Linked DNA regions of Homo sapiens. The protein of the gene in region 1 interacts with the protein of each later gene in a pairwise test. Each region holds a gene or a part of one and is shown on either strand. Other genes may lie near its edges.

Region 1 (2,289 bases):
GAGCCGAGGTAGAGGGGGAGCAGTGGTAAGATGAGCGAGCAGTCGACTCTGGTTGGAAGGGTCCAGGGAAATGGGGTCACTCGGGGACGTGGGCCGCCTCCGGGCGGGCAACGCCTGAGAAGCACGCAGCGCTCGGCGCCCAGTGCGCCCCCACGAGCGGGCACGGCGCCGGGTCTGCCCGGAGCCCGCAGCGCGCCCGGAGGGAAGGCCGCAGCGAGCCGAGGCGCCGCCGCCCGCTGGCGCGGAGAGGGCACGAGCGAACAAGGCGCCTTTGAGAATCCACCGCCCCCCCTTCCTCCTCCGGCCGGCCCCGCCCCCAGCCTGGCACACCCTCTCCCCCCCTCCCCGACAAAGCTTGCCTTGTGTCCCCCACCCTGCGTGCACCTCTTGGGCCCCACGGAACCTCGGCGGCGGCGTCCAGGGATCGCGTCCGGAGCTCCCAACCGGATACCCCCCCCAAGCCCGAAACGGCGCTGCCCATCCTCATACAGTCACCTCAGTCCAGAAAACAGCGATTTTAATTTGAAAGCGATTTTATGTATGAGAGGGGAAAGGAGCCCCAAAGAGAAGGGACGCAGGGCAAAAATCATGCAGCCCCAGCACCCCACCTCTGCGGGCTGGCCACCTCCCCTCAATTCTCAGGCCAGGATCCTGTGTCCCCAGCCTATGCTATGTGCCCAGGGCTGGAGGAGAGCTGTAAAGGGAAGGCCTCCGGGACTACACTCGTGAAACCATCCCCTGTGGGGGCCCTGTCCTCACAGCCCAGGCCCCTTCCCCAAGTTAGACAGGAAGAGATAGGGGGGGCGGCGGGAAGCTGGGAAGGCTAGTGCTTGGAGAGCCCTAGGGACAGGCCATTTCAGGGCCCTGCCTTTCCCAAACACCCACCTCCACCACTGGCATTTCTTAGTCAACCTGGGAAAGTACAGTACTTCTTTGAGTCTAACTGCAAGTCTCTATCCTCACAGGAAATTAAAAATAGCAGATCGGTTCCTACATCTCCACCAGCCCCTTCACCACCACCACCACCTTTTTTATATTTCAGTCTGACTGCAGAAGGAGGTGAAGTGTAAAAAGAGACTCTGGACAGTGACAGGGCCCCTCCCTCTTCCAGAGAGGCCCCCATCTGCCAGGTTTGAGAGGAGGAAGGCCTGTCAGGGCCCTACTCTCATGTCCATCAGCTTGGGAGGCCTGCCCCCCAGTATCCACCTCTGGGGGAGTTCCCCATTTCCACTCTTCAGATGGGAAGCAAAATGAGGCAAGATGAGAAGGAAGCAAGGTCCTGGAGGCAAGGCCAGTGCTTTGTGCTGGGGGAAGGACAGAGGGTGAGAAATCACCCCAAATCATGGGAGAACCCGACAAATTCAGAGACTCAAGGCCACCGAAGAGAGACAACCAGTCCTCACAGGTATCTGGGGTCCCTTCCAACTTGGGATATCAAGCAGATCCCTTGGAGGGTTTATGTTCTTGGTTCTGCCCTGTACTTCTCACCCCATCAAGGTTCTGGGAACATGGCCCCCCACCCTGCCCCAGGGCTTGGAGTCCCTCTTGGATGTGTGCTCCTCCAGTGTGAGAAGCACCACGTCTGGGTCTGAGCTCAGGCCAGTTGATGGGGAGCCTCAAGCATCTCCATGAGGAAGGTGTCGATGGGGGTGTCACCAATGAGCTTGAAGAAAAACAGATGCTCTAGACACTTAAGGCCAATGGACCGGAGGGCAGGAAGACGTAGCAGCAGCTTGGCAAACCTGGGGTGGAGGTGGGAGAAGGGGATTGAGAGCTGGAAGCACACGGGCCCTGAACACATCCTCATAGCACTCCCCACCCCCAAGGGAGCCTCAGTGCCCCCCAGCCCCATCTCACCGTCCCTGCTGCTCAGGGTACTTCTGTTTGCAGTAGGTCTCCAGTGATGCATACACTTTCTCCCGCAGGACCTCCACCTCACTAGGGTTGGAGAGGCCCTTGGCATCTGGGATGGCAGGGAAGAGAGGAGGAAGAGAAATGAAGACAAACCAAATCAGGATGGCCATGCAGATGTGAGCCACAGGATGCCCCTTTTGGGCTGCACTTGCTTGCCCTTTACCAGAGGCCTGGCAAGGGAAGCAGGGCCCACTGGGTTTGTGGGATGGATCCGTGGATGTGGGTTTTTCCTCGGCCAGTTGGGAGATTTCCAGGTTGAGGGTCTTACTGAGGGGGATAGCTGGGTAACTTAGGAGTCTCGGAGAAGAGGAGGCTCCAAGGTTGCCTTGGCCTTGAGAGACAAAGGTAATCCTCCTCTTACCTGGATTAAACAGA
Region 2 (2,842 bases), on another chromosome or scaffold:
TCTGGAATCATTACAGAACAAGCATCAAAAAATGCTTGGTGAGAATAGACTGGTGGGGTGGACAAAGAAATCTGTGGAAGCCATTGAGAGAGAGAGAAATGTGGAAGGCAAGCTGCCTCCATGTGCTTCCCCTGAAAGTCCACCCAGCCACTCCATAGACTGGACATCTCGGAAGCATAAGCCTCTTCTGGGCACAGCTGTAATCCAGCAGCCACCCTGAAGATTGGGTGATAGCTCTGCCTAGACTTCGGCACATCCTGAGGCTCCCAAACTCCAAAGCCCCAGAGAGTCTGGGGGCTACGGCTGGAAACTTCTCCCAGAAGTTAACATGGGTATCTCACAGCATCCCATGATGTAGGGTCTAACATCCTCCATCCAGGGCCCAGAACTAGGGGCCAGCCCTGCTTTGATGCCACAGCATCAAGACCAGCACACCTTGTTTGCCCCACTGCCTCCACCAACTCAGATCAGCCAGAAAGGTCAAGAACTGGACAAAGCAGGAGAGTTGACCATCAGGTATATTGGGGAAGGGAGAGATGGAGGCACCTTCATGAGTGCCTCCCAAGGGCAGTAGCCTCTGCAACTTGCTGGGGGTTCAGGGGAAGCAGGGAGTTCATGGGGCTCCTCCAGCAAAGATGAGCTCCAGGGCTGCTTGGATGTCCCCACCGGTGGCCTGCAGGGCCCGCAGGCTCAGCTCATCGTCCTGGATGCCCATGTCACGTAGCTGCTGCAGCTGGGGCTGCCACTGGCTCTGTGGAAAGATAGGAATGGGCAGAAGCTGTTAGCTGGGATCCAGTGAAGACTCACTTAGGTCTGTGCTTTCCGGGGAAGGAAAGGAAGATGGGGGAGTCCTCAGCAAAGCTGCTGATGCTGAGTTCCACAGAACACGGTGCTTCTAGGAAGACTAAAAGATAGGCTTGAGGGTTAAGAGAACAAATCCAAAGTTTTACAATAAAAAAAGGAAATTCTTGGCATAAGGATCAAAAGAGAATGTACAAATTATTCACTGTCTGAATTCCAAGAGGCTAAATTACTTTCTTTCTCTTGCTATGTGTACACACACAACAGCAAGATTTTGCTCTTTATGTGATGAGTGTTACAGATTTTTTTCCCAGTTTGTTAGCCTTTGGACTTTGCTTCGGTTTTTTGTTTGGTTTGGTTTGCCACGCAGAAATTTTCACCTTTTTTTAAATGTCTTAAATTTTTGTGGTATATAGTAGGTATATCTATTTGTGGACTGTAAGAGATGTTTTAAATTTTTCGCTTTTACAAACCCAAAATGCATAACTTTTATTTAATGGCTCCTGGATACTGAGTTTCAGCCAAGAAAGCCCTTCCCTACTATAAGGATTTGAAGAAATTCACCCATATTTTCTTCTAGTACTTTCATAGCTTCATTAATATCTCTATTTCATGACAGCAGGGATGAGCACAATTTAGGGAAAACAACGTGTTCACATGTGGGAAGAAGGCAATGCAAAGGGGAAGAAAAGCAAAGTCAAAGAGGCAGGCAGTGATGAGAACATGGAGGGCTTAAAAAAAATGCACACAGATCAATTTGAATTCATTTTACAGGCCAGGTGGAACCAGTGAAAGCTTCTGAGCTAGGGAATAAAGTAAACAGGCATCTAGCAACAGGGGAGATGCAAGAATGGAGAAGACAAGTTGTTCACGAATCCTGCTTCTGTTCCCTCACTGTCTACAAGGACCACATGGAACAGTGAAAACCACACAGGCTTGAACCCTATCGTTACGACTTCATGGCCTTATGACCCCAGACAAGTTCCAGGGATGATGCTCTACCCATAGGCTTACTATGTGGAATAGAGGAAAACAGACGTGAACCAAACTGCTCATGCATGGAGCTGTGAACTACAATGCTGGCCCCTCAGGTATTCCACTTAGCTGCTAGGGTGACCTTTCTCCTCCTTAAAGCCTCCCATGGGCCAGGTGTGGTGGCTCACACCTGTAATCCCAGAACTCTGGGAGGCTAAGGTGGGTGAATCGCTTGAGCCCAAGAGTTCAAGACCAGGCTGGGCAACATAGGGAGACCCCCCCATCTCTACAAAAAATACAAAAAATTAGCCAGGCATGGTGGTGCATACCTGTAGTCCCAGCTACCCGGGAGGCTGAGGTGGGAGGATCACCTGAGCCCAGGAAGTTGAGGCTACAGTAAGTTGTGATCACACCACTGTACTCCAGCCTGGGTGACAGAGTGACACCCTGTCTCAATCAATCAATCAATCAATCAATGCCTCCCAGGGATCCCTGGTGACTGCTACATCAAGTCATCAAGTCTAATCTCCGCAGGTTGGCATGCAAGCCCCTCTCGTAGGCTCCTGCTCTTTCTCTGGCCCCATCTGCGGATCTTCTACACTGGACACTGCATCCTAGCCTTGTAGTTTTGAGTATGTCACATATACCTCCACACATGTGCACAAACAGGTAGCTGTCTTCACCTGGAAATCAGCCCCTTCCTACCTCAAACCCCCTTCCCTGGCTAGCTAACTTCTAACTAATTCTTCTGACAATCAGCTTAAATACCCCTCTCTCAGAAAAGTTTTGTCTGACCTAGGCCCTTACTTCAAGCAGCTGGGTTTCTTGCCTTGTTGCTCCCCAGCTCAGTGCCTGCCTGGTGCCCCTCCATGGCAGGGATGAGAACCAGCTTGCCACTAGCCCAGCATCTGGACTCAGGCCTAGTATACACATGCTCAGTCAATGATCACTGAATGAATGAATGAAATGGCCATGATTATCTAAGCCAGGTGGTCTAGGGAGTCAGGCCATGGTCACTAGGGGCAGGAGAAGCCTAGTGACCACTGTGTATGGTCTGAGAGTGTGC

The links. Proteins that work in one complex are often made in the same cells at the same time.
Region 2: the proteins of RXRB (region 1) and UBL7 interact in binary tests that used the Homo sapiens proteins (3 or more experiments, as listed by UniProt).

The regions. Positions count from the first base shown.
Region 1 is NC_000006.12:33,193,088-33,195,376, forward strand, and holds the end of RXRB (retinoic acid receptor RXR-beta), read right to left. Parts: coding exon 2,276-2,289; intron 1,964-2,275; coding exon 1,858-1,963; intron 1,743-1,857; coding exon 1,595-1,742; 3' UTR 501-1,594; downstream 1-500. UniProt on the Homo sapiens protein: Receptor for retinoic acid. Retinoic acid receptors bind as heterodimers to their target response elements in response to their ligands, all-trans or 9-cis retinoic acid, and regulate gene expression in various biological processes.
Region 2 is NC_000015.10:74,445,477-74,448,318, forward strand, and holds the end of UBL7 (ubiquitin-like protein 7), read right to left. Parts: intron 752-2,842; coding exon 614-751; 3' UTR 501-613; downstream 1-500.